4 linked regions of the Homo sapiens genome follow. The protein of the gene in region 2 purifies or fractionates together with the protein of the main gene of each other region. This does not show direct contact. Each region holds a gene or a part of one and is shown on either strand. Other genes may lie near its edges. The genes, in order: KCNIP2, WBP1, SLC39A11 and ATP12A.

Region 1 (7,022 bases), on a different chromosome or scaffold from region 2:
GGGGATAGTCGCCGTCAAGTGGACAAGATTTGCCCAGAGTTAGGAGGTCATTCTCACCACTTAAATGTAGGGTTTTCAACCAATCATGCGGGATCCCAGTCGAAAGAGCGGGACTATATCTCTCCCGTAGGCTTTCCCAGGAATTTTAAGGCGTTAGAGAGTCCTGGAAGTGTTTACTTGGGGTCTAACCTGATAGAGATGAGTCCGGAGTCCAGGAAAGGGGCGCAGCGGGACCGAAGTGGGGGGGGGGTGCGGGGGGGGCTCTTCTCGAAGCATTCGGCTGTAGCCAGCGTATGGTGGTAGTCTGTGAACCTGCCGCACCGAGACAAACACAAATAGAAACAGTTATGAGAGCAAGGAATTTGGAGCCAGGAGACAGAAGGCAGTGGGGCACAACTCTGCTGCCTCTTCTTTGCCACCCCAATACACTGGCCTCTTTCTCCTTCCTCCTGGCTTTCTTCCATTGGCCCAGGAAGTGTGGGGAGTTGCCATGACAACTCTGTCCTCTTACCCCTTCGGCTCTTTATGCCAAAATGGTGGGGGCGGGGTGCAGGGTGCGGGGAGGAGTGCGACAGGCGGAGAAAGGGGGGCTGAAAGGGGGCAATAAAAGATACGGTTCATTCCCCATCCAGCTCTTTTCTCAAAACCCACATGTGCCTGCCTGGCCTCCCCGCCAGAACCCAGAAAAATGCTCCCTGAGAAGGCTGAGTCCGCGCCGCCCCTCCCCGCCACCCCCCCCCCCCGTCCAGGAACTTTGGGGGCGGCTGCTTCACATGATGGGGCCAGGGTGAGCTCCTCTCGTGCGGCCAGGAGAACATGGGAAGGCTCCAGGGTTTCGATCCTATGCCTGCCGGGCCGGCCCTCCCGCGCCGCCCACGCGGGCCTACCCGGGTGAGGGCGGAGACCGGACCGCCCCGGGGCCTGGGGGTGGAGCTTAGACGCCGAGCTCGCCGCCAAACCATGAACCGATGCCCCCGCAGGTGCCGGAGCCCGCTGGGGCAGGCAGCGCGATCCCTCTACCAGCTGGTGACTGGGTCGCTGTCCCCAGGTATGATGAGGAAGGGAAGGGAGGGGCAGGATCCTTCAAAAAGTGAGCGAAGTGGGTTAGGAGCTCCGCAGAGGTAGGGAGGGAAGGGCCCCTCAAATAGATGGAGGGAGCAACATCCCTCCAAGGAAAGGGCTTCCAAGACGAGATCCTGGACAGAAGCGGAGCAGGGGATGGGCCTCCTTACTGAGCAGGAGGAAGACAGCGCTCTTCAAAGAGGAAAGGAGAGGGGCATCAAGGTCCCTCACAATGGTGGAGGGGGCGGGGCTTCTCACCGAAGGCAGAGGAGGGGGCCTTAACTGAGGGGCAGGGCGCCTCCCAGGGATGAAAGGAGGAGGCCTGCAGCAGAGCAGGGAAAAAGTTCAGTCCTTTCCTGCATTTCTTGGCTGAAGGGGTCTTAAGATGAAGGGTTCAGTGTCCAGAAGGAAAAAACCCTGAGATGGGCCTAGACCAACATGAACTCAGCTAGCAAGTTCATACATGACATGGGACTGATAGACTTGTGTGGCTTAAGGATTGTATGTCTCTGTTTTCTCTCTCTCTGGGAGTGTGTATTAATGGGATTGTGCATTACTAAGTTGTGCATCACTGGGCTATGTATGGCTGAGTCTGTGTCTCCCTGGGGTTGTGATCACTGGGATTCTGTGACACTGAGACTGTGTGTACCTGGAGTTCTGTACTTTAGGACTGGGTTGAGGGTTCCTGAGCCTCTAAGTTGGTTGTGTAGCCTTCGTGAGGTTGTACCTTGGTGTGAAATTTGTGGAGTGTATGAGGTGTGGATTGTTGAGTATCCCACGGCACTGCTGAGGTGTATGCACATCTCCACTTGCATTTCCTTATGACTGCTTGGGCAGGGCCCATAGAACGCAACGTCTCCTCTGTACCTGACCTCAAACAGACCAAAACAACCTGGTCCTGTGGCATTCTGAGATCTGTCATTTTCTGGCTCTCTCCATGGGTATCCACTTGAGCCCCTGGAGTATAGATAGGGCCTGTGGCCTCTCCTTGCCATCTGTCCCCCAAAAGGAGGGTAGATGGATGGTCCTGAGCCAGAACCATACCTGGAAATCTTCTGGGGAGCATACAACCTCCAAGCCCCCTGCTTGGGCCTGTCTCCAGTGACAGATGGCTGGAGCCAGGCAGGGCCAGCTCTCAGTCATTGCAGGCATGACTTCCAGGACCCAAAATAGCCCCAACGTCTAGGGAGGTCATTAATCACTCGATGCAGCTGGGGGCTGCAGTGTCTTTGGCCTAGCTGGGAATGGTGTGGGTCTGGGGGACTGAGAGAAGGGCTTTGAGGTCTTCACTGGCTGGGTTAACAGTGGCGGTGGGGGGTGGGACAAAGCTAAACTGGGGAAGGTGGGACAGTTGCATAGAGTGGGTTCCCCCACAAGGCAGTGTTACTCACATTTGAACTGGGGGAGATAAATAAATAAATGATAGGAATATCTCTGTGGTAAGATTTGAGGGATCTGGGGAAGGCCCACCTCATGCCTCGAGATGGTTTTCCCTTGAGTTCCCACTCTGCCAAATTGCTTCCACAGAGATTTTACTTTGAGTGAAGAGCTAAATTCGTGGCACAGGGATGCTTGGGGAGGATGGATCTGGCAAGTTTCTCACTGAACCCGAGGACTTGAGAAGTCTCTGAGTGGGGAGAAGGGACAGCCTGGAAAAATAACTCATCCTTTCACTCCTGACAGACTCTGCCACAGGATGCCTGGCTGATTTAGGACCATGAGTCCTGGCAAGGCTGGGTCAAGGTCTCTGAGAGTTGAGAGTGGGAGTTAGGAAAAGGAGGGGCCAGGGCCAGGGCCAGGTCCAGGGCAACTGGCTGCAAGTTATCAGTAGCAGGGAGCAAGAAGGGGCTGTTGTGGGGCCCCTTTCCATTCAAATAGTCTGGCTTGGCATTCAAGGTTTCATGGAATTTGACCCTTTTTGATTTTATTACCCATAGCTCCCTTACCTAAACTAAGCTGTAGGCCCTAGGATTCCTTGACACCCCGCACATATTGGAGAGACTGCCTGAGGGAGCTGACAGATCACTGACTCTGGTTAAACAACTCATTATTATTATCATTATTATTATTATTGAGACAGAGTTTTGCTCTTTCAGTCAGACTGGAGTGAAGTAGCGTGATCTCAGTTCACTGCAACCTCCGCCTCCCAGGTTCAAGCAATTCTGCCTTAGCCTCCTGAGTAGCTGGGATTACAGGCAAGCACCATCACGCCTGGCTAATTTTTGTATTTTTAGTAGAGACGGGGTTTCACCATGTGAGTCAGGCTGGTCTTGAACTCCTGACCTTGTGATCCACCCGCCTCGGCCTCCCAAAGTGCTGGGATTATAGGCGTGAGCCACTGCACCCAGCCAAACTCATTCTTAATTAGCATGTCAGCTGTTATCTTGGAAAAAAAATCACTCTTTTTTCCCAAGATAAGCAGGGAGCTTATCTTGGCGGGGAGCTTCAATTCCTTCATCTGCAAAATGGGTATACTATCACTCACTCTGACCATGTCAGCTGTAAAAACAGGAATAATAGATCCTACCTCTCAGGTTTATTATGAGGACTAAGTGAGATACTACATGTAAAGTATCCAGGACACAAAATGTGCTGGATAAATATTATCTTTGTTTATTTGTTTATTTTGAGATGGGGTCTCACTTTGTCATCTAGGCTGAAGTACAGTGGCACAATCATGGCTCATTGCAGCCTCAAACTCCCCACCTTAGCCTCCCAGGTAGCTGGGACTATAGGTGTGTGCCACCACGCCAGGCTAATTATTATTATTTTTTTTTTGAGACAGAGTCTCGCTCTGTTGCTCAGGCTGGAGTGCAGTGGCGTGATCTCGGCTCACTGCAACCTCCACCTCCTGGGTTCAAGCACTTCTCCTGCCTCAGCCTCCCAAGTAGCTGGGATTACAGGTGTGTGCCACCACGCCCGGCTAATTTTTGTATTTTTAGTAGAGACAGGGTTTCACCATTTTGGCCAGGCTGGTCTCAAACTCCTGACCTCGTGATCCACCTGCCTCGACCTCCCAGAGTGCTGGGATTACAGGCATGAGCCACCTTGCCCAGCCCAGGCTAATTTTTTGTAGAGACAGAGTTTCGCCATGTTGCCCAGGCTGGTCTGGGACTCCTGATCCAACCTTTAGGGATTGGCAAGCAATCCCTAAATAGACTTTTTCCTAGGGGAAAGGAGTGGAACAGACCAAGCCTATTTGAGGCCAGACGCGGTGGCACACGCCTGGAATTCCAGCACTTTGGGATGCCGACGGGGGCAGATCACTTCAGGCCAGGAGTTCGAGACCAGCCTGGCCAGCATGACAAAACCCTATTTAAAAATATAAAAATCAGCTGGGCGTGGTGGTGCACGCCTGTAATCCCAGCTATTCGGTGGCTGAGGCACGAGAATCGCTAGCGCCACCGCACTTTAGCCTGGGTGATAGAACGAGACTCTGTCTCAAAAAAAAAAAAAAAAAAAAAGAGAAAAAAAAGCCTGTGTGAAGCGTCATCTTCCCACCTCTTCCCTGGATGGGGCAGGTCGGGGAGAAGGAAGGTGTATGGTACTGTGTGAGGTTGGACGCGTGCCCCCCGGTGGTGGCTGTATAGAACTGCAGATCAGCCAACCTCGACTGGGGCCTTAGGGACTGGCCCCCACCCCACAAATTGGGCTGAGACACAGTCATCCCAGAGCTGGACAAGAGGGAGGGCTCCTTCTGGGGCCAATCCCCCTAAATTGGGCCTCCTGGCTGGGCCAGCTTTCTAAGAAGGGAGCCAGTGTAGTGTGGTGGTTTAGAGTGAAGGCTGAGTCAGACTGGGTTAAAATTGAAGCTCTGATCTTGAAGATTTGCTTAACTTCTCTTTGACTTAGTTTCACCACCTGTAATATGAGGATAATAGTATGCCTTCATAGGCTTATTGTGAAAATTCGGTGTTACAACACCTGTAAGCACATAGTGCATTATCTAGTACATAGTGAATGCTCAGTCACCGTTAGCCAGCAGCGGTAGTAATGGTGTTACTAACCCAGAGGCCCTAGTCTTGTGGCTCATTGGCTCTGTAGGCCTCTCCCCACCCCTTTACACACACAAACACCCCACCAAGAAGAAGCAGGGAAGAGGAGGGAGGGACTCCGGGGATGCTGGCTGGGAGGGGTGGCTCCCTTAGAAGGTTCAGATTTCCCTCCTACAGCAGCTGGGCTTCTCCATCAGCTCAATAACAGTTCCTAAGGAGCAGGCAGGGCTTTAGCATCTCCCGGATGAGGTCCCAGCCACATACGGAGCCAGCACAGTCCCCCCTCCTCTCCCAAGAAGCTTGGGTTTCTTGACCCCAAAGGCAGCTGCAGTAAGTCCCCTCCCCAGAGGGTCCTGATGGGGTTAAGTGGCCTTTTTCTGCCTAGGCTACTACTGTATCTTATCCCCCCTCCCTTGGGCCTCAGTTTCACTGCCTGTGGCCTGTGGGAAGAGAGTGCTTCCCTCCTCACAGTCTCCATGGCAACCAAATCGATATTGGTGATATCCTCCTAGCAGGAGAGGTCACTGCCTTCTCCGCCATTATTCTCATACAATTCCATGCCAATACAATGACAAAACAGTAGACCCACCCTCCAAATTATACAACACATCCATACCTAACAAACTTCAGACCCACATCCTACAACCCTACTAAAACACAGGAACCTCACTCCCCATGCACACTCACAAATACTTCAACACACTCCTACACATGCAGACCATAGACACCCAGCTCACATACCCATATACGCAAGAGTCAAAATGCATAACCATACGCCAAACACACACCTCTGTGACAGGTGCACAGTCACGTGTAAGCACACAAAGACACACATAAGAGGAGACATATGCACTGCCATACTGACAAACACAGGAATATACACACAGGAAAACACCTGGCCACCACAACATATTCTGACCCATGCATCTGATTACTTATACATGTGCAGATGGTGGTTTCTCATGCACATACACCCTGCCCTTCCCTGCCTTCTCCCTAAGCTCAGCTCCTCCCTCTGCCCCTTCCCTTTGGCACAGAGTAGCCACAGGATGTCTAGGGGAAGCACTTCTCAGGGACAGAGGCGGGTCACTGCTCCCTCCCTCTGGCCCATATCTTGGCCAAAAGTTCCCAAGGAGGTGCCAGTCCAAAGGCTGAGGTGGCCCTGCGAAGAGGAAGAGGCGGCGGCTGTGGTTGGGAGGCTTGTGGGGCAGAGGCGGGGTGATGGGGGAGAGGAAGGAGATCCTGGGAGGGAGAGTGGGAGGGAGGCTGCAGGCAGTCCTACTCAGGCTGGGGAGTCTGAGGGGGAGGTGGTGTGAGGCGGTGAACCGGCGTATCTGAACCTGGGCCCTGTAGGGGCCATGCCCCAGGCCCACCATGAACCTGGAAGGGCTGGAGATGGTTGCTGTGCTCGTGGTCCTCGCTCTGTTTGTCAAGGTCCTGGAGCAGTTTGGCCTCTTTGAGCCTGTCTCCTTGGAAGGTAATCCAGGTGTCCTGGCATGTCTGAGCTGCTGGCTGGTGGGGCAGCTGCCCCACAGCACTAGGGAGGGTGTTTGTCTGTCTTCATGACTGGGGCAGGGATGAGCAGGTGAGTGATGGCACAGGGATCTGGGAGGTGAGTAGGGGTGCTTGGGGGATACAACATCTGGGAGGGGTGAAGAGGAGGCCTCAAGGAGTAGATATGGAGGGAGGAGGGAATCTGGGGGACCAAGGTGTCAGGAGGTGATGAGGGGTGCAGTGTGGGAGGACTGGGGTGTGGAGATGAGGAGGTGAGGGGATTCTGGGCGATACCAGGAGGGGTCTGGAGATAGGGAAGGAGTGTCTAGAGTAGAGGAGGGAGGTTCTAGGGATCCTGAGATAACAACGGATTTCTGGGGGGTCCTTTTTGGAGTCAGGGGCCCACCACGGTGCCTGTGCATCCTCTCCACACCTCCATCTGTGCAGTGTAGCTTATGGGGTGTGTGGGCA
Region 2 (7,813 bases):
TGCATAGCTAATAAATGGTGAAACTGGGATTTGATAATAGGCTTGTCTGACTCCAAAATCCCTTTTCATAATCACATACTACATGACTTAATCCTGGATTCCCCAATATAATTGCTCATTGATTCTTGATAATTTTATCACTGAAATGTAAGAGACTTTTCACTGCTGTTACCTTGCTCAGACACTCATATATATTTAGATATATGTATATAGGTGTTATTTTCTAATTATAAACGTGATATATATTGGCTGTAAGAAAATACATTACATACCTAAATAGTGAAAGTTCCTCAACCCCAACTTCTACAGTTAACCAACATTAACAGGTATACATTCCTCAATTTTTTCTATGTATTTGCTAGTATATTATGCTTTTAAAAATCAGATCACATAATCTTGAAATTTACTTTTTTTTTTTTTTCTTTTTTTTGAGACGGAGTCCCGCTCTGTCGACCAGGCTGGAGTGCAGTGGCGCGATCTCGGCTCACTGCGACCTCCACCTCCCGGGTTCAAGCGATTCTCCTGCCTCAGCCTCCCGAGTAGCTGGGACTACAGGCGCGTGCCATCACGCCGGCTAATTTTTTTTTTTTTTTTTGTATTTTTAGTAGAGACGGGGTTTCATCGTATTAGCCAGGATGGGAAATTTACTTTTCTTATTTCGTGTATCAGCACATACAAACCTACCTGTTTTTATGTCTTTTTTAAAATGAGGTAAAATATACACGTTTTATACAAAATTCAAAAGGCACAAGAGGGTATAATCATAAAAAAATAGGTCGCCATCCACCCTTGTTCTCTAGATGCTCATCAGCAAATGACTCTTACCAATTTCCTAGATAGCCTTCTGGGGCGCCTCATTTCTTTTCCAAGCTGCTTAACATCCCACTGTATGGATACACCAATTCATCAGGACACTTAGATTGTTTAAATTCTGTGTCAATCTCATTAATTACTTACAACTCAACTTTTCTTAGCAATATGGTGTTCCGCATTGTACAGCTGCACCGTAATTCATTTATTCATTTCCCTACTTATGAAAATTGAAGTTTAAATACCTAAACTGCATCTGCTCTTAGGGCACTCGTGCTGTTTAACCATTTCGGCCATTTTGTCATCAATATAGTTTATGTATTCCTCCACCCAACTGTGAGTTCCTCAAGGACAGGGGCGGTGTTCATATTCATCTTTGCATCCTCTTAGACTAGCTTCCCGCACTTGGTCTAGTGTATACATTCACCAAACTTGTGTTCAATAATTGACTCATCCGCGCTGAGTTCTGAAAGCTAGCGTGGGGAGGCGGAGCCAGGGGAAAGCCCTGCCCATTTGGGCTGTCCCGACCTCAGAGGGACCGGAACGTTCGTTGGAAGGATCCTCGTTTCTCAGGGACGATTTTGGACGCGAAGCGTGCCCCGCACAAGGATGGTTGCCATGAACCGGAAGTAACTGGTTGTTTTGCTGGCTCCAGTTTTTCCGCGGGGCGGAAAAGGCGTGTCTGCGTGTGTCCCAACCATTTCTAGTCCCCTTTCCTCGCAGGACCTCATGAGTAAGCTGTGGCGGCGTGGGAGCACCTCTGGGGCTATGGAGGCCCCTGAGCCGGGTAAGCGCGAATAGATCAAGCAATTTAGGTCGTGTTAGAAAAGAAGTCCCGTTCTTGCTCCTCGGAGAGTCCAGGGTACTTCGGCCACAGGTGGCAAGGAGAAAGGCGGTGCTGTTGTTATGGTAACAGCGAGTACTGCGGGAAGGGTGGGATCCAGTAGGGGCTTAGGTTATTCAGGGCTTCCCCTGCCACCCTCCGGCCAAACACTGTCGACAGGCTTTCCTTCCACAGGAGAAGCCCTGGAGTTGAGCCTGGCGGGTGCCCATGGCCATGGAGTGCACAAGAAAAAACACAAGAAGCACAAGAAGAAACACAAGAAGAAACACCATCAGGAAGAAGACGCCGGGCCCACGCAGCCGTCCCCTGCCAAGCCTCAGCTCAAACTCAAAATCAAGCTTGGGGGACAAGTCCTGGGGACCAAGAGGTGAGGCCAAGAGGGTCATAGTTTTATAAGGGGAACTTTAGGAGCAGAGATAGTAGTTAGAAGCCGACTGGGCTTTCTAGAAGACCGAATGGACACTGTGACTTCAGGGTCCAGATTTAGGCAGCAAGAGTCTAAGAGGGTGGGGAAAGTTGGGTGTAGCTACGGAGTAGGAGGAGGAGACGCTTGCTCATTTTAAAGAGTAGTGTTGCTTCTCTGCAGTGTTCCTACCTTCACTGTGATCCCAGAGGGGCCTCGCTCACCCTCTCCCCTTATGGTTGTGGATAATGAAGAGGAACCTATGGAAGGAGTCCCCCTTGAGCAGTACCGTGCCTGGCTGGGTGAGGATCTGGAGGTGGGGAAACTGGGTTTCTTATTATACCCGCCTAAAGAAAGAAGGTTGGTTCTGAAATGGGTTAGGATTTTCCATGTCCCAGTATTAACTCAGCCAAATTAGGGTGCCCCATCTGAACAATTCTGTTTTTCTTTCTCCAACTTCCTTCCCAGATGAAGACAGTAATCTCTCTCCCTCTCCACTTCGGGACCTATCAGGAGGGTTAGGGGGTCAGGAGGAAGAGGAGGAACAGAGGTGGCTGGATGCCCTGGAGAAGGGGGAGCTGGATGACAATGGAGACCTCAAGAAGGAGATCAATGAGCGGCTGCTTACTGCTCGACAGGTATGTTGGTTCATTGTTTATTCACTCACCAAATGTATACAGTATTGAGAACTCTCCACGACCCACGCACTTTGCGTGGCATTGGGGATATCGATAGTAGAGAAAAGACAAAGTTTCTGTTCTCCTGGAGCTAGTATTCTAGTGTGTGTGTTGGGGGGCTGGGAAGTAAATAAGTAAATAATTTCAAAAAGCTATATGGTTTATGACAAAAAGAAAAGGGTGATGAAATAGAAAGTGGCGTAAACAAACAGATAGAAATGATGGAAGAGAGACATTAGGGTAGTTAGAGAAGGCTTCTTTGAAGAGATAACATTTGCAATACCAGAAGAGCTTTTGAGCAGAGACCAGCAGGCGCACAGACCTTGAGACTGGAACATGTCTAGCAAAGGAGAAGAAAAAGTGGACAAGCCACTGAAGGGCTGTACGCAGAGAAGTGACATACTTGGTTTACATTTCAATAGATTACTTTGGCATCTTTGTAGAGAATGAATCTTCGTGGAGACAAGAGATAGAAGTATGGAGAACAACTAGGAAGCTGTTGAAGTAATCAGCTGAGAGGCAGTGGTTGCTTTAACCAAGACGAAAGTGGTGGAGATGGAGAAAATCAGATGAATTATGGCTATATTTTGGAAGTAGATACTTGTGGGGAGGGGAATGGAGAGAAAATATATCAAGGCTAAGCCTGGGATTTTGGCTTGAGCAGTTATCCACCTGATACTCTCTATTGAGATAAGATTAAAAATAACAACAGACCTCTGGGAAAGCTGGTACAGTTTTGGTGCACAGGTCAGGCAGGTAACATTACTGATGCTTCTCCCCTTGAGAGATAAGGACCTAAAGCTAAATGTCAGGAGATCTGGGAGGAGGCAGTATTTATGAAGAGGAACCTATGGAAGGTGTCCTGGAGAGGGTGCTCATTAATTAATATCCCGCCTCCGAAGGCCTGCACTGCTCAAGACCCTGCCTTCCATGTCCCTTCTTTCCCCTCCCCCGATCTGGCCGACCTCGCCTCTCCATCTTCCTCCATTTTCAGACAGCACCCCGTCTCTGTCTCTCCCTAGCGAGCTCTGCTCCAGAAGGCGCGGAGTCAACCTTCCCCTATGCTGCCGCTGCCTGTAGCTGAGGGCTGCCCACCTCCCGCCCTCACAGAGGAGATGCTGCTGAAGCGCGAGGAGCGGGCGCGGAAGCGGCGGCTCCAGGCGGCGCGGCGGGCAGAAGAGCACAAGAACCAGACTATCGAGCGCCTCACCAAGACTGCGGCGACCAGTGGGCGGGGAGGCCGGGGGGGCGCACGGGGCGAGCGGCGGGGAGGGCGGGCTGCGGCTCCGGCCCCCATGGTGCGCTACTGCAGCGGAGCACAGGGTTCCACCCTTTCCTTCCCACCTGGCGTCCCCGCCCCCACGGCAGTGTCTCAGCGGCCATCCCCCTCAGGCCCGCCGCCGCGCTGCTCTGTCCCCGGCTGTCCCCATCCGCGCCGCTACGCTTGCTCCCGCACAGGCCAGGCACTCTGTAGTCTTCAGTGCTACCGCATCAACCTGCAGATGCGGCTGGGGGGGCCCGAGGGTCCTGGATCCCCCCTTTTGGCTACGTAAGGCCCTTAACCCGGACTCTGCGCCCCGTCCCATGCCCGCTCTTGAGTATCTTCCCCACCCTATTAAATTACATCCGGTGCTTCGGCTTGTACAGAACTGGGGGAGTGGGATGTTGTGGGCAGACCAGTCTCCGGTATACACGTATTTTGCCCCTGTCGGAGCTTGCGTCGATGCCTGGGGCTTGGAAACCACCGCAAAAAACCAGGCTGCAAACCAGCGGACCGACTTTTGGGACTCCGCCTCTTCCAGCCGGGATTACCTGGCGTGCTTCGGCCTTTGGCGTCATTCCGAAAACATACCGCAAGCCAATCAGCGGCAACCTTGCTCTTCGGGGCGGCTGTTCGTTGGTTGATATGCCAGAGCCTGTTCTGTTGTCTGTATTGGCTATTGCCGCTGTCAGTCAGGGCCGTGGGTCGAACCTTCACCTACTCTTTGTCTGTACAAGCTCTTGTTGTCTGGGTGAGCGGCGGAGGCGCTGCTGTGGATTGGTCACAGGGAGAAACCTCTGATCTGTTCCTATTGGCCCGTCCGTCAAGGGACGATGATGATTGGTAGGGCAGAGCAATCTGAGTCCTAGTTGGTGGAGTTCTGCCCGGATGGAAGCTCCGGCCGCGGAGTGATGGTGGCCTCAGCGAAGATGGGCCGGGCAGGGACCATGGCGGTGGCAGCAGAGGTGGCAGGGGCGGGGCGGCTGGCGGTAGAGGAGGCTGTGGTCCTCAGGGGGCTGTAGGTGGAGGTATGGCTCGGGCCAGCAGCGGGAACGGCAGCGAGGAGGCCTGGGGGGCACTTCGGGCGCCGCAACAGCAGGTATCCCAATAGCTCCAAAACCTATCACGACAGCCATTTGTCTCTTTCCCCTTTCCTTGTCCCTTCCTTTTGGGGGTGGGGGAGGAACTCACGGAGCCAAAGGTACTGTGAAGTTCCTAAACATGTCTCTTCCACTCTTTGTCTAAACTTTGTAACGTAGATGCAGCTGACTTTGCCTGTAGCCTCATAGAACCCATCCCATGGCTGCAGTGGAAGCTTGCGGTGGCTCTCCAGTGACCAGAGGCATAGTGAGGTCCCAGGGAGGCTCCCTCTGTCTTGCAACAGTTATTTGTGATCTTTTTCTATGTGCCTATTGTCACAACAGAGTCCGGCAGCGTCTTCTCTTGAGGGAGCAATTTGGAGAAGAGCTGGAACCCAGACTCGCGCCCTGGATGCCATCCTTTATCATCCACAGCAATCCCATCTGGTTGGGAGCACTGCTCTGGGTCTCACACTGCCCCTCCTCTATCCTAGGGAGCCTGAGGCCCAGGGGTGGAAAGATCCAGTTGCGGGTGGGGGGTAGTGAACCGCGCAGGATAATGAAAGCAACTTGCTTTGGAAATGACCTACCGCTACCCGTTGTCTGAGACTGAGATTATCTCAGACTGTCTTCTGGCTTCTGCCAAAACACTCCCTTAACAGAAAGCACCGAGGGGATGGGGGTAGGGGGGTTGGGGAGAGTGAGGCTTGAGTGTGAAGGAAGTCTCATATATGCAGAGCTGAAATCTCCCTCTTTGTATGTCCACACTTTTGTCTTGTTCTCTAGACTGATTCTTGCTATTCCAAATCCTCTTCCACGTTGACAGCCCTTCAGATATTTCAACACTCCTCTCAGCATCCTCCACTTCCCCCATCTCTCCAAGCTGAACTTGGTTCACAGGGTGGGATTGTGTATGTGCATGCAGGAGGTGGGGGTGGACAGTGCCCTGGGCTGGAATCCCCCTTAGTTCTAAGTGCCTCCTTGCCCGCAGCTTCGAGAGCTGTGCCCAGGAGTGAACAACCAGCCCTACCTCTGTGAGAGTGGTCACTGCTGCGGGGAGACTGGCTGCTGCACCTACTACTATGAGCTCTGGTGTAAGTCTCCAAGAGGGCTATTTCCAGGTCCCTGTGTCCACCCTCCCTTGGACCTCAGAATTTCGGCCTTCAGGGCCCCTTCTCTGCATGAAAGATGCCTGAGTTGCTCCCTCCTTGCCTCTTGCAGGGTTCTGGCTGCTCTGGACTGTCCTCATCCTCTTTAGCTGCTGTTGCGCCTTCCGCCACCGACGAGCTAAACTCAGGCTGCAACAACAGCAGCGGCAGCGTGAAATCAACTTGTTGGCCTATCATGGGGCATGCCATGGGGCTGGTCCTTTCCCTACCGGTTCACTGCTTGACCTTCGTGAGTGACTTGATGCCCTGGGTCAGCTACCAGTGGCCCTCCCCAAACCAGAACCCCAAATCGTCTCACATTCCCTTTTCCACACATTTCAAAGTATTTTTCCCTAATATAAAAACTAGCACCCTATACCTGGTTGTCTTCAACCAATCATGCCAATTTTCTCCCCTGCAGGCTTCCTCAGCACCTTCAAGCCCCCAGCCTACGAGGATGTGGTTCACCGCCCAGGCACACCACCCCCCCCTTATACTGTGGCCCCAGGCCGCCCCTTGACTGCTTCCAGTGAACAAACCTGCTGTTCCTCCTCATCCAGCTGCCCTGCCCACTTTGAAGGAACAAATGTGGAAGGTGTTTCCTCCCACCAGAGTGCCCCCCCTCATCAGGAGGGTGAGCCCGGGGCAGGGGTGACCCCTGCCTCCACACCCCCCTCCTGCCGCTATCGCCGTTTAACTGGCGACTCCGGTATTGAGCTCTGCCCTTGTCCTGCCTCCGGTGAGGGTGAGCCAGTCAAGGAGGTGAGGGTTAGTGCCACCCTGCCAGATCTGGAGGACTACTCCCCGTGTGCACTACCCCCAGAGTCTGTACCGCAGATCTTTCCCATGGGGCTGTCTTCCAGTGAAGGGGACATCCCATAAGTAGTTTTGAGAGGGTGGATGGGTTACTTGCCCACCAGAAACAGCCCTAGTCCCAACTCCTTGCGTTCCTTTGGCCCCTCCCTGCCTACCTAGAATCTGCCTGAAAGGGCTGGAGAGGGGCAGTATTGGGGGACTGTGCTAGCTTTACCCCCGCAGGACATACACAGGAGCCTTTGATCTCATTAAAGAGATGTGAACCAGCTACTTGTGGATTTGGGTGGACTAAAGCTCAACTCACTGCATTGCACTTGACCTGACTGGGTTTGAAGGGGACAGGTTATGGCCACTTGACCCCACCTTCCCTGAGGACAGCAGACAGTGCTGAGGCCTGGACTGACCTAAGGCCTCTTGGTGAGGCAAATCTGGCAAAAGCAATAGAGTTCAAAATGTTTTTTCCAATTTATTTAGAAAAATAGACTCTGGATTCACATTCACCCCAGGGCTATGTGGGATGACAGCAAGGAGACACCTGAGATGAAATGAGGAAGGTTTGAATTACTGGTATCCAAGGGGCTGGGGGCAAAAGCCAGAAGCCTTTGTCCCTTCAGAGCCAGAGTGGCATGAGTGTCTTGGCTCCCCTCCTCTCCCTCCCTTCAGTAGTCTTCAGCCATGGCCAGTAAGACAAGGCTGGTCCAGCCGTGGAAAGGGCGGCAGCCCATGCCTCGCCCATCGCGGTCACTGTACTGCTCCCAAAGAAAGCCTGTAGCCT
Region 3 (7,022 bases), on a different chromosome or scaffold from region 2:
CTCTGGTTGGCTGAAGCTTGGCTGCCTGTGATTGGTTGAAGCTCAGCCGCTTGTGATTGACTGAGATCTAGCTATCCTATTACAAAAAATATATACTCCTAATGAGATTTTCATTTGTATACATACTAAGTTAGGTTGTAGTTCACTGCGAAGCAACTCAAAGTACAGCCTCAGACCAATGGCCTTTTGCTTATTTAATTTAACAGACACCTGAGTTATGCTTGCTGGGTTTTCTCTCCCAATAAAGGGACCCTTCATTCTGTCTGTGCCATCACGTGTTTAAGATTCACTCAAGACCTATCTCCTCTAGAAAGCCTTCCCCACAAATCCATCCCATGCTGTGAACTGAAAGCTGGATGCTCTCTCCCACTCTTGTCCTCCCAATTTCAAATCCACACAATTTGGCTCCATTATGAATAAACAAATAGCCCAGGGGACCATGGATATTTAGAATAAGGTTCTAAGAATGACATTCTTCCAATATAAGCCAATTTGTAAAGGCATTTTTAAAAGGAAGGTTTGCTCAGAAAACCCAAGGGCTGGGTGCTACGGATGGCCCATGAATGTCTGTGGCACGTGGGCTGCAGTTCTGCCCTTCTCTCTCCTGTCTAGCTGCATGGTTTCCCATCTCTGCTTGTTGATGTATATCTGATTCCTTCTGATTGTCTGTCCAGCCGCTTCCCTCGTTCCATTGTGGCAGAGCTGCTCGCGCATCACGTGATTTTTCAGATTTAGCTTGCACGTTGGAGTGGCCAATTCTCCCTGGAGAGGGATTCTGATTGGCTGAGCCAGGCGTCTGAATTGGTTCCCATAAATCAGTGTGACCAGGAGAGCAGGGTCACATATTATGTAATTCTGTACGGCTATGGGAGAGGGAACATGATACTAACAATAACCATCAATACAATCAGCACTTAGTACATTCTAAGTACTTTCAGACATTGTTGCATTTAATCCTCACAAAACGCTTGTGACATAGGTAATGCTATTATTCTAGTTTTACGAATCAGAAAACCACTGCACAGAGAGGTGAAACAACTTATTTGGCACTACACAGCTGGCCAGTGGCTGAGTCAGGAAGGGAAGCAGGCAGCATGGTTCTGGCATCTGTGTCTCTAATCATGACTCAACATTGCTTGTCTTAAACAGGCATTGCTAGGATACCACATCTTCATCTTTTTTATCCTTCTTGGTACCTATGCATTGGGCACTGAATGCCTGTTCAGTGATTTTTTTTTTCTTTTTCTTTTTTGAGACAGGGTCTTACTCTGTCACCCAGGCTGGAGGCCAATGGTGTGATCACAACTCACTGCAGCCTCAACTTCCCGGGCTCAAGCCATCCTCCCATCTCAGCCTCCCAAGTAGCTGGGACTGCAGGTGCATACCACCACGCCTAGCTAATTCTTTATTTTTATTTTTTGTAGAGATGGGATTGTGCCATGTTGCCCAGGCTGGTCTCGAACTCCTGGGCTCAAGCCATCTGCCTGCCTCAGCCTCCCGAAGTGTTGGGATTTCAGGCGTGAGTGACCATGCTCAGCCTAGTCAATGAATTGTTCGCTGAATGAATGGATGCCTGAGTGAATGAGAGAACACACAGAAGCATGCATAGTCTACAGGAAGTTTGGAATGGGCAATTGTGACGTGGGTCCTTTTTGGAGAGGAGTGAAGATGGCAGTCCCAGCTACTTGGGAGGCTGAGATGGGAGGATGGCTTGAGCCCGGGAAGTTGGGGCTGCAGTGAGTTGTGATCACACCATTGCCCTCCAGGCTGGGTGACAGAGTAAGACCCTGTCTCAAAAAAGAAAAAGAAGCTTCTTCCTGCTGTAGCTTGCTGGAGAGTTAACGTGCACATGTTCAAAGCGCTGTCTTTCCCCATCTCTCTTTTTTTTTTTTTTTGCTCAGACAAGAGTGAGAATGGTGAGGCATATCAGAGAAAGAAGGCGGCAGCCACTGGCCTTCCAGAGGGTCCTGCTGTCCCTGTGCCTTCTCGAGGGAATCTGGCACAGCCCGGCGGCAGCAGCTGGAGGAGGATCGCACTGCTCATCTTGGCCATCACTATACACAACGTTCCAGGTGAGGTCTTGCCCGTGAGCGTGACAGCCACTGCCTGAAGGTAAAGTCATTTGTCAGCACAGTTGTCTGGCTGGAAAAGGGGAAGGGGCAATTGTGACGTGGGTCCTTTTTGGAGAGGAGTGAAGGTGGCAGTACAAATCTTTCTTGGCTTTATTTTTTGATCGTCATAGATAGATCATCATATGTGAAAACTTCCCATTCCGGTTAGTTTAAACAACTTCTACTTCCTTTTTGTTTACATATTTGTTACCAAGTTATTTGGAGCATAAATTCATAACTGTTACATGATTGCTGTGGAGGGTATCTTTTATAAATACTGGGTATCTCTGGTTCTGCTTAATGCTATTTGAAAACATAGTTGACCCTTGAACAACACAGATCTGAACTACGTGAGTTCACTTACACTCAGATTTTCTTCCGCCTCTGCCCCCTGAGAGAGCAAGACCAACCCCTCCTCTTCCTCAGCTGACTCAATGTGAAGAGGATGAGGATGAGACCTTTATGATGACTCACTTCCACTTAATGAATAGTAAATATATGTTATCTTATGAATTCCTTAATAACATTTTTTCTTGAGATTGCTATATTGTAAGAATACAGTTTATAATACATATAACATACACTATATGTACTAATTGACTATGTTATTGGTAAGACTTCTGGTCAACAGCAGGTTATTCATAGTTAAGTTTTGGGGAAGCCAAAAACTCTCTGCAGATTTTCTACTGCGCAGGGAACCAGCATTCCTAACGTCTGCATTGTTCGAGGGTCAAGTCTATTGAGTTCAGTATAATTTGGCACTGATAATTGCCTTACCTGCCTTCTTTATGTGGGCATCTTTCTGAAATGTTCTTACCAATCCTTTCCTATTTAGCATTTTAGAGTAATTTCTTTTATGTCTTTTTTTTTTTTTAAGACAGAGTCTTGCTCTGTCCCCCAGGCTGGAGTGCAGTGGAGCGATCTTGGCTTACTGCAGCCTCTGCCTCCTGGGTTCAAGTGATTCTCCTGCCACAGCCTCTTGAGTAGCTGGGATTACAGGTGTGCACCACCATGCCTTGCTAATTTTTTGTATTTTTAGTAGAGATGGGGTTTCACCATGTTGGCCAGGCTGGTCTTGAACTCCTGACCTCAGGTCATCCACCTGCCTCGGCCCCTCAAAGTGTTGGGACTACAGGCGTGAGCTACCACGCTGGCCTGTTTTATGTCTTTAGATGTATTTTAATTGGAAAAAAGGACATATTAATGCCTTATTTCAAAAACAATGAATGTTTCTTTTAGAGCAACTAGAAAACATGATTAAGCATAGGAAATGATAAAGATATTTTTAAAAATAAATAAACTGAGGGAACCTGAGCAATTTGGGATGCATTTTGAAATTCCAACTCTCTCACTTCCTAAGGAGGTTATCTTGACGAATTGCTTGAACTCCCTGAACCTTGGTTTTCTCATCTAAGAAATGGGGATAATGCCACAAGTGGCTTACTTAGAGAATTAAATGAGATGCTAAATATACATACAGCTTTCAGTACAGTGCTTGGGACTTACGAGCGCATTGTTGGCATCGATGATACTCCTGCTGCCTTTTCAGCCATGATTTCCTCGATCTTGAGATCTTAAACATGCTGACCCACCTTTTGTTGTTTGGGAATTCGAGTTTGAGCAATAATCTTCCCCAGGGAGCATCCTTGGGTGATACATTTTCTGAGTCCTTGCAGAGTTCATGGTGCCAATCTGTTACTCTAATACAGGAGCAAGAACTTGGCTGGGCAAAGCTTTCTAGTCATGACATTTTTCTCTACAAAGCTTCTGCAGATGTTGATCCCTTGTCTTCTGGCTTTAGTATTGTGGAAGCAAAAAGCATGGCCAAAGTGAGTCTGTTCCTCTGTATAACTTGATATTGTTTTGCTTGCACAATGAAGACTTTTTTTTGTCGTCTTTAAAGTGTGAAAATTCTAATACATATTATATATTCTAGTATATATTAAATCTGCCGAAAGCACTATGTGTTTAATTACTTTTTAAGCTCAGATATTTCTCTAGATAAGAAGCACATTCCTCTGTTATTTCTATCCTAATCTTAGGAATGTCTATCATACGATCATAGGTAGGCCAGTTTTCCCAACATTTTCATCAGTTTATGTGTCTCCCTCATTCCCCTCTTGACCCTTTTCTTTGAGTTATGAATAAGCTTTTTTTAGTTGGTTTTCCAATTTTTTTTTTTTTTTTTTTTATGAGACAGAGTCTCGCTCTGTCGCCCAGGCTGGAGTGCAGTGGTGCAGTCTCAGCTCACTTCAATCTCCACTTCCCGGTTCAAGCAATTCTCCTGTCTCGGCCTCCCGAGTAGCTGGGATTAAAGATGTGTGCCATCATGCCCAGCTAATTTTTGTATTTTTCGAAGAGACGGGGTTTCACCATGTTGGCCAGGCTGGTCTTAAACTCCCGGCCTCAAGTGATTAGCCCACCTCAGCCTCTCAAAGTGCTGGGATTACGGGCATGAGCCACAGCATCTGACCCTGTTGGTTTTCTAGATCTTGGTATTCAGTATGTCTTGAGATAAAGATGGGGTCTTATATGGACCTCACTGCACAAAGATGGCCAAAGTGGGTTAGCCTTGGTGGAAGACCCTGCTCGTGCCCACCCCGTATCTTAAAGAGGTCATTGAAAGACCCCTTGGTCCCCTGCAGAGGACTACTTAGGAGCCCTGACAGCAACTTGTAGCCTGTTAAGTGCTAATAGTTAGAGAAGAGAGGTTACTTGTTTTTCATTCATAATAGTAGCTGTCTTTCTGCCATTTATGACCCCTTCTTTAGCCAATTGAGGAAGAGTAAAGATCTGCCCAGTGGGTTTAGTGTTAAATAAGGTAACTACACTGAGGTGTATTACGGCAACTATTTCTCTGAAGAACAAAAATGTGGTCTAAGGTCCAGACTTTATAGCAATGGAATGAGTATCCAACTTTCCTCTAATGGACCCTTTTATATACCACACCTGCCACTGTACTTGGGTGATTCATTATGCTCAGCTGGAATTATTTCCTGGCTCATCCCAATGGAAGGCCAGGATGGTTCAGAGTTTACTTTCTCAAATGTTTGTTGACTCCAGTGACAACTTGGAATAAAGCCAGAAACAGGAGGAAGATGTGTGGAATGACAGCAATATTTGATGATCTTAAATGAGCATAAATTAAAATCTTACTTCTTCCCTGACAGGAGACCCTATTCTGTGTCTTTGGAGTTTCCAAGTCTAAGTTCAGCCTTTGTCACTTCTATGGTGATGCAAAAGTATTTTTTCAAATAAGGATTGAGGCCAGGTGCAGTGGCTCATGCCTGTAATCCCAGCACTTTGGGAAGCCAAGGTGGGCGGATCACTTGAGGTCAGGAGTTTGAGACCAGCCTGGCCAACATGGCGAAACCCCGTCTCTACTAAAAATACAAAAATTAGCTGGGAGTGGTGGCACATGCCTGTAATCCCAGCTACTTGGGAGGCTGAGGCAGGAGAATCACTTGAACCCAGGAGGCAGAGGTTGCAGTGAGCCAAGATCATGCTACTGCACTGCAGCCTGGGCGACAAAGCAAGGCTCTGTCTCAAAAAAAAAAAAAAAAAAAAAAAAAAAAAGAGAGAGAGAGAGAGAGATTCATTGGTTTGAAAGATGGATTCTCTTATCTCCACACTCCATCCTGGGTGACACAGCGAGACTCCGTCTCAAAAATAATAGTAAAATAAAAAATAAATTGAAATGAGGATTGAGTGCCTTCCAGGAATCTCAATTGAGTTAGATTTCACCAGAAGCATGGTGGTAATAGTCACTGGTTTCAGTAAACTGGAGGACAGCTGGCTTGACTGGATGGAGAGGTTTGAAGGGACATTTCTTTCCCAGTCTTGTCTTTTATTTATTATATTTGAGTATTGTATTCCATGTACTTGGGTTATATCAGTACTAAAACAGACCAAGATCTCTGGCCTTCTATAACCAATATTATAGCAAGGTGAGATAGTCGATGAACATCATCATAATAAATGAATTTTATATTGTGTTAGAAGGTGGTTAGTGATTTAAAAAAAGAAAAAGTTCAACAGGGCAGAGGAGACGGTAGAGTGTTAGAGGAAGAAATTGCCATTTTAAATAGAGTAGGTAGGGAGGGGCTCCTTGAGATGTCCTTGAATTTGAGTCAGTCATGCAGATCTCTGGGAAACAGTGAGTGTTTTAGGCAGAGGGAACAGCCAGTGCAAAGGCCCTGAGGCAGGAGCATGTCTGGCCCCCACAAGGAGTAGCCAAGAGTCCACTGTGGCCACAGCAGGGTGAGCAGCAGGGAGAGAAGTACAAGGTGAGGGCAGGGATGTCAGCCCCTCCTTTAGATGGAACTTGGAGGCATAAGAATGTTTGTTTTTGCTCTGTGTGTGATGAGCCATTGCAGAGTTTTGAAGAGGGTGTGTATGACTTGACTTGAGCTTTGAAAGTTTGTTTCTCTTTAGATACTGAATTGAGATGGGACTTAGGAGAGGTAAGGATGGAAGCAGGGAGGCCTATGTAGAGGCCACTGCAGAATCCAGATCAAAGATGATAGTGGTGCAGACCAAGGTGGTCGTGCTGGATGTGGTGAGAAGGGATCCCTTCCTGGGTCCCGATTGAAGGTGGAGCCAATGGGATTTGCCGATGGATTGGATGTGGGATATGAGAGAAAGCGAGGAGCCAGGAGGGACCCGGAGGTTTCAGGGCTGCCCAGCTGCAGGGATGGAATTGCCATCAACTGAGACGAGGAAGGCTGCAGCTCCAGGGGCTTTAGGGGGACTATCAGGAATTTGTTTTTTGATTGTGAGGTTTGATTGCCATTAGACATTCAAATGGAGATACTGACTAGACAGCTGGATACATGAGTTTGGAGTTGGCTTGCAAAGTCTAGCTAGAGTTATAGATTTCTGAATCATTGGCCCATGAATGTTTTTTGTTTT
Region 4 (7,022 bases), on a different chromosome or scaffold from region 2:
TGGGAGATCGAAGAAGGCAGATTGCTTGAGCCCAGGAGTTCAAGACCAGCCTGGGCAATATACCAAGACCTTATCTCTACAAAAAAAACAAAAAACGAAATTAGCTGGGCATGGTGGCACATACCTGTAGTCCCAGCTACTTGGGAGGCTGAGGTGGGAGGATTGCTTGAGCCTGGGAGGTCGAGGCTGCAGTGAGCTGTGATCGTGCCACTGCACTCCAGCCTGGGGCACAGAGTGGGACCCCGTCTCAAAAAAAAAAAAAAAAAAATTTAAGAGAGAAAGAGAGAAAGAAAAAGAAAAGGCCTATATTTTAGAAAGTGATAGAGCTGGGAGGTTTTCTGTTTGGTTTGGTTTTTGTTGGTTGGTTGGTTTTCTCAATGTCTTTACTTGATCATTAAAAAAAGCAGCAGCAGCAGCTGGTAACCCTATTTGCCCTATACTTCTTTTTGTACTCATCTTTGATACCCAGAAGTCTAAGAAATACTGATTTGTAAAGAACTGTTTTACCCAAAATTGTAGCACTTTTCTTTGCAACTTATTTTCTCCCAAACACTCCAGCTTCCTGAGATTCCTCTTGAGTGCTTAGAAGAGTACCTGGCTTATCAGAAGGGCTAGATAAGAGTTAGTCCTTTTATTCTTGTATATCGATTTTTTTTGCATATCTTATTAGGATGGATCTAGAAGTAGAATTGCTGGGTCAAGAGCATTCCTATTAAAATGGAGACTCCTGTGACTCGGCTGTCTTCCTGAAACATTATACGTGGAAGTGTCCACTTCCTCACACCCCGCCATTTTCTATGACATCCAAGCAGGAAAACTGGGTGGACAATGAGGTGAGGAGGTGCAGAAATTCCTGTCGCCTCCTCCCCTCCTGAGCTCAGAATAGTTTGGGTCTGAAAGACGGCTGCTCCCCACAGGGAGGTAGAGGAGGTGAGATGCAGAGGCTCGCAGCCCCCTAACTCTCACGGGCACCCTGGGAGATCTTGTTCAAGGCACAAGATTTCACACGCTGACGGCCACAACTAGCCTGCCTAAAGCAGCCAGTTTTGCTTGAAAGATGAGCTCCACTTATCCAGAGTGGGTGCCCCACTCTGGGCTGGGGCCAAGTCTAGAGCTCTTCGTCTTACTTGGCCACAGAAAGAAAAAGGGCGGAACATGCTGAGGATGCCATTGTGCCTCTTCCTCCTTTACATTTAATGGACCAGTAGAGAAGAAGGAATGCGTTTCACCTTTCTGTAAGTAACACGCTCAGTTCATTCCTTCCCAGCTCTCCATCCACGAGATGGATGACCCCCACGGCAAGCGCTTCCTCATGGTGATGAAGGGGGCCCCTGAGCGCATCCTAGAGAAATGCAGCACCATCATGATCAACGGCGAGGAGCACCCACTGGACAAGAGCACTGCCAAGACCTTCCACACAGCCTACATGGAGCTGGGCGGGTTGGGCGAGCGTGTGCTGGGTGAGTGCGGCGGCAGGGCCCTGCCCATCACCTGGTGGGCACAGAGATGAGGCAGGCGCCTTGAGGACCTGTGACCTAGCCCAGTGGCCATGGCATCCACGTGAAGCATGTAAAGGAGAACATGATAAGCAGGATGGGAACAAGGAGAGGATGCTGTGTGACAGCACCAAGCAGGGTGGGATGGCCTCCAGAGAGGCAAGCTCAGGGAAGACTTTATGGAAGGAGTTAAATTTCAAACTGGGCCTTAAGTGACTGCATTTGAGGGGAGATAGGGGAAAGTATCCAGGGCCCAGGGAACAGCACAGGCCAATCACAGAGGCAGAACGGCGTGGGGCACATTGGGTGCTGCCAGCAGGTGAGATGGCACTGTCACAGAAACAGGGTTCAAGGGCTGGACTGGAGGTCATGAGATGGAGGTCTTGAACATCTGGGTGAGGAGCCAGGTTTCATCCTGCAGTCAGTAGAGAGCACTGAGGGCTGTGCCACTAGAGTGAGCTGGGCAGTCGCAGGGCTGGGGAAGACTTTATGGAAGGAGTTAAATTTCTTTAACTTCTTTAAATGTCTTTGGCGGCAGCAGGGAGAGGAGAGATGCACATCTCCATAGGAAGCAGCTGCCCTTGCTCAGGCAAAAGGGATGGGAATTTTTTCAGGGTGATGGGAATGGGAAGGAGAGATCAGGGCAAGAGACTTCATAGAGGTAGAGTTTGGTAAGATTTAGAACCTATCAGAGAAGGATAATGTTTAAAAATGATTAAGCTTCCCATTTAACGACTAGGAAGAGAGTGATGCCAGTGATGCAGACAAAGTGTCAGGAAGGAAGGAACCTTAGAAATGCAACAGGAGGAGGACCCAATGGGGGTGCCTGCGGTGTTGTCAAAGGGGACAGTGTGTCCTGTTGTCAGCACCAGGGCTGGCGGAATGGTGCCCCATCAGGACCACAGAATGACAAATTCAAGGAAACAGAAGTGTATGGTTGACGATCCGGCTCATTAAACACCATGGAAGTCCTCACCAATACAGATGCAGTCTGTGGAATGTGTGTTTCTAAAGGCTATTGGAGTTGGCAAATCAGATAAAGCATATAAATGAGATGGTGATGCTTTAGGCATCCAATAACCCACAGTACCGGGTATTCTACACGGGATCGATGCCCACTTGCGTTTGATTTCTCAAAGCCTGCTCCATTGACATTTGCAAAGCAGTGGGCCAGGCTGAAAATAAATTGGATGTGAAAGCTGATCACACAATCTTGGAGGTCCCACCAGACACAAGAGTCCCTTCCACCTCAGCCTATGAGAGGCTGATGCCTTCTGAGAAAAGGATGGCTCGGCCCCATTCCTGCTGGCCTTTCTCTTGGGCTTATCTTGATCTAGCACTGAACTTTGTGCCCCTCCGCTGAACCCCCTTGTTCCTTCACATGCTGTTTTCTCTGCTGAAAATGGCCTTCCCACCTCCACCCTCCCTTTTTTCCCTAGAAATCATCTTTGCCCCTCTCAAGCTTCACCTCACATGTGACCTCCTTGGGGAAGTCTCTCCTAATCCTCCAGGCAGCTGAAATGTGTCTCTGCCCTGAGATGTACCCTATGCTTGATCCCTTTAACTCTGTGCCCCGCTAAACTTCAGAAGTCGAGACTGTGTATTGCCCTAGAACTTGGCAATATAGCAAGATATATTTCTAGAACACAGAGCCTAATGAGCTCACAGTGAATTATATTTGGATGAAATATGTCTTTCCTAAAAAAATGCATTATGGAGTTGAAGAAATTAAACAATTCTGGCTTATTCTAATGTATTGGTAAAACAGCAGAGGACCAAGGTGTATGAGCATGTTCTCCTCTTATTTTTTTTCGTTTCCTATTCTAGTTTCACTGACTCACTAATTCATCTGTATTACAGGTTTCTGTCATCTCTACCTGCCAGCAGACGAGTTTCCAGAAACCTACTCATTTGACATAGACGCTATGAACTTTCCGACCTCCAACCTCTGTTTTGTGGGACTCTTGTCAATGATCGATCCCCCTCGGTCCACCGTGCCAGATGCAGTCACCAAATGCCGGAGTGCAGGGATCAAGGTGGGAGTTATTTTCCTGACTCAAGAAGTTCTTTCTTTATGTCGTGTTCCTTTCTAATAATGGTTTTCATAGCAGATGGTCAGTATTTAGGTGTCTTCAAGTAAATATCATAATTCCTATTTTATTTCTAGTTTCACTGTGCTAAGGTTACTGAAACTGTCCCACAAAAAGAAAATGATTGTGTCTATGTGGAATGAACCACATAAACAGTAAATGCAATGAGAAGAATCTCCTAGTGCCTTGAAGTGACCATATCTCGCCCTAGTCCATGGTAGATACTAAAAGGCTTTATTGGCTGGGCGCAGTGGCTCATGCCTGAAATCCCAGCACTTTGGGAAGCTGAGGCAGGCGGATCATCTGAGGTCAGGAGTTCCAGACCAGCCATGGCCAACATGGTGAAACCCCGTTTCTACTAAAAATACAAAAAAATTAGCCAGATGTGGTGGCACACACCTGTAATCCCAGCTACTCGGGAGGCTGAGGCAGGAGAATCTCTTGAATCCAGGAGGCAGAGGTTGCAGTGAGCCGAGATCACACCATTGCACTCCAGCTTGGGCAACAAGAGTGAAACTCTGTCTCAAAAAAAAAAAAAAAAAAAGAAAGAAAGAAAAGAAAAGAAAAAAAGAAAGAAAAAAGGCTTTATTACTCAGTCTTGAGGCTCAGCCCCCATAATCCATGTTCATCATTACTAGGTTAATATTAAGACTGTTGAAGTAACATGGGGCTACCCCCAAGTAGACACTCACCAGCCCTTTCACAAATAAAGTGGCATCAAAGGGGAAGGGCTTCCTTTCATGTCAGAGGAGGAAGCGTATGAAGCTTAGGAGCAAGGGTAGACCCAATGGGATTAGTGTTTCCTCCAAAGACAGTTGTCTCGTAGATCCAGAGCTGCCACTGTAATCACCAACCACGTTCTCCCAGGGCACTACAGAGTAGGTATTACTGAACCATCCCCACTTTGGCCAACCGAGTTCTTCATTACCCGTGGGCCTTCTCGTTGTCTTTGCTCTAGGTTATTATGGTTACTGGTGATCATCCCATCACAGCCAAAGCTATTGCCAAGAGTGTGGGGATCATTTCAGCCAACAGTGAAACAGTGGAAGACATTGCACATCGCCTCAACATTGCTGTGGAGCAAGTTAACAAACGGTAAGCACAGGAGCAGCATAGTAAAAATTCCAGTTTATACCCATGGGGCCCCACTGGCTCTAAAGAGCTGCACTACTTGGAACAAATCAGCTTTTTGCTCTCAGAGTTATGCTAGGCTTGTTTGAGCTATTATTTGCATATCCATGTATTCACTCTAATTTCACTGAGCAGCTAATATGTGCCAGGCACAGTATTGATACCATGAAATGACCCTTTATGTGTTCCTTGTTTGAAATTTCAAAATCCAGTGTGCCCTGGGCACAAAACCTATGTGCCCAATTTAGAATAAGAAAAACTGAAACAAAGGGTTTATGTGAAATTACTTGCCATAGATGCAGTTGCATAATTTGGAATCGTAAGAACCCTGTGGGTTGTTTCATGCACCCTCCTTGGTAAGCATCTTGGGTATTTATCCACCCGGTTTCATAACGTGTAGCTATGTAAACACACCCTTCTTTTTTATTTGGTAATAGATAGAATGGAAGCTTCCTAAGGAAAGTTTTTTTCCTTGTTTCTCCTAATTCTTTTAATCATGTTTATCCTTATTCTTTTAATCATGTTCATCCAACTGTACATTCACTCATGTATTTGTTCTTTCAACAAGTATTTACTGCGTGCCAACTATATACCAGGCAAGACCTGGAACTACAGTAGCAAACTGAACAATACTATCCACACCGTTGGGGAATCTTTCCATCGAGCCAAGGAGACACAAACAAAGCTAACAATGATGTGGCCAGTGTAATGAGGGAGCCACACAAGGCTAGGGAGCTGGGCATGCAGGAGAGTGGCCTGGACTGTGCCTGGTCTCCATGAGTCAAAGACTCCGAATTCTCAGGTTGAGAAGTAATGTTCATTAGCTGGGTTATGTTTTCACGCATGCGGGAGATGAGGGAAAGACCAATGCACCTCTTCAGTTTCCCCAAGCACTTAGGTCTTTTAGGGACACACAGCTGTCAGGTCATAACAAATTACCACGTTAGACAACCAACCAGGGTTCCCGCCTCTGGGCACAGCAGCAGTACCTGAAGTCTAAGAGTCTTGCAGTGCCCTTTAGTATACATAACATCCCTCTATGAAAACAACTTTGGGGCTTGTTTATTTGTTTGGTTTTGTAAGATAATCGGATTATACTTTTTTTCACTTTAGAATTTTAAACAAATTTTGTTTGTTTGTTTGTTTGTTTATTTAGACAGAGTCTCTCTCTGTCACCCACGCTGTAATGCAGTGGTGTGATCTCAGCTCACTGCAATCTCCACCTCCTGGGTTCAAGCGATTCTCCTGCCTCAGCCTCCTGAATAGCTGGGATTACAGGCGCCCGCCACCATGCCTGGCTAATTTTGTATTTTTAGTAGAGACGGGGCTTTGCCATGTTGGCCAGGCTGGTCTCAAACTCCTGACCTCAAGTGATCCACCCACCTTAGCCTCCCAAAGTGCTGGGCTTACAGGCGTGAGCCACCACACCTGGACTAAAAGAAATTTTTTTAAGAGTAGTCAAGTGCAGTAGTGAGAAGAGGGGAAAGAGTAGAAGTTTGATCTGTAACTGACTGTGAACAATCAGTTGAGCTAATTCACTACTACCTTCAGACCAGCCGAGTCTTCTTTTTTTAGATACAAGGTGTCCTGTCAGATCACCCAGGCTGGAGTGCAATGGTGTGATCATAGCTCACTGCAGCCTCGACCTCCTGGGTTCAAGGGATCCTCCCCTCTCAGCCTCCCAAGTAGCTGGGACTACAGGCTTGTGTCACTGCACCCAGCTTCATTTTAGCAGATTTTTTTTTTTTTGAGATGGAGTCTTTCTCTGTTGCCTAGGCTGGAGTGTGGAGTGCAGTGGTGAAATCTCATTGCAGCCTCCACCTCCTGGGTTCAAGGGATCCTCCCCTCTCAGCCTCCCAAGTAGCTGGGACTTTAATTTAAAATTTTAGCAGATTTTTTTTTTTTTGAGATGGAGTCTTTCTCTGTTGCCTAGGCTGGAGTGTGGAGTGCAGTGGTGAAATCTCATTGCAGCCTCCACCTCCTGGGTTCAAGCAATTCTCCTGCCTCAGCCTCCTGAGTAGCTGGGGTTACAGGCATGTGCCACCACACCCGGCTAGTTTTTGTACTTTTAGTAGAGACGGGGTTTCACGATGTTGGCCAGGCTGGTCTTTAACTCCTGACTGCAAGGGTTCTGCTCGCCTTGGCTTCCCAGAGTGTAGAGATTACAGGCGTAAGCCACTGCGCCTGGCCCATTTTAGCAATTTTTAATGAAAGTTGTATATAAGATACCTTATTCCTGCATCTTCTCAATTGCTTCTTTTTTATATTTGCCCTTCCTTCCCTACTTAGGAAGATTTGTTTGGCC

Evidence for each region.
Region 1: the proteins of WBP1 (region 2) and KCNIP2 purify together in Homo sapiens (affinity purification with mass spectrometry; 3 studies listed by BioGRID and IntAct, with this or other methods). This does not show direct contact.
Region 3: the proteins of WBP1 (region 2) and SLC39A11 purify together in Homo sapiens (affinity purification with mass spectrometry; 3 studies listed by BioGRID and IntAct, with this or other methods). This does not show direct contact.
Region 4: the proteins of WBP1 (region 2) and ATP12A purify together in Homo sapiens (affinity purification with mass spectrometry; 3 studies listed by BioGRID and IntAct, with this or other methods). This does not show direct contact.

Annotation. Positions count from the first base shown.
Region 1 is NC_000010.11:101,833,779-101,840,800, reverse strand, and holds part of KCNIP2 (A-type potassium channel modulatory protein KCNIP2), read left to right. Parts: intron 1-929; exon of another isoform or gene 930-960; coding exon of another isoform or gene 961-1,048; intron 1,049-6,377; exon of another isoform or gene 6,378-6,431; coding exon of another isoform or gene 6,432-6,534; intron 6,535-7,022. UniProt on the Homo sapiens protein: Regulatory subunit of Kv4/D (Shal)-type voltage-gated rapidly inactivating A-type potassium channels. Modulates channel density, inactivation kinetics and rate of recovery from inactivation in a calcium-dependent and isoform-specific manner.
Region 2 is NC_000002.12:74,453,578-74,461,390, forward strand, and holds WBP1 (WW domain-binding protein 1), read left to right. Parts: upstream 1-4,860; 5' UTR 4,861-5,025; coding exon 5,026-5,094; intron 5,095-6,065; coding exon 6,066-6,168; intron 6,169-6,295; coding exon 6,296-6,472; intron 6,473-6,643; coding exon 6,644-7,104; 3' UTR 7,105-7,304; downstream 7,305-7,813. Other genes in the region: INO80B (INO80 complex subunit B), read left to right, coding at 1,540-1,597, 1,829-2,021, 2,241-2,359, 2,526-2,695, 3,757-4,287; MOGS (mannosyl-oligosaccharide glucosidase), read right to left, coding at 7,698-7,813.
Region 3 is NC_000017.11:72,844,684-72,851,705, reverse strand, and holds part of SLC39A11 (zinc transporter ZIP11), read left to right. Parts: intron 1-1,901; coding exon 1,902-2,072; intron 2,073-7,022. UniProt on the Homo sapiens protein: Zinc importer that regulates cytosolic zinc concentrations either via zinc influx from the extracellular compartment or efflux from intracellular organelles such as Golgi apparatus. May transport copper ions as well.
Region 4 is NC_000013.11:24,697,391-24,704,412, forward strand, and holds part of ATP12A (potassium-transporting ATPase alpha chain 2), read left to right. Parts: intron 1-1,267; coding exon 1,268-1,460; intron 1,461-3,356; coding exon 3,357-3,532; intron 3,533-4,544; coding exon 4,545-4,681; intron 4,682-7,022. UniProt on the Homo sapiens protein: The catalytic subunit of a H(+)/K(+) ATPase and/or Na(+)/K(+) ATPase pump which transports K(+) ions in exchange for Na(+) and/or H(+) ions across the apical membrane of epithelial cells.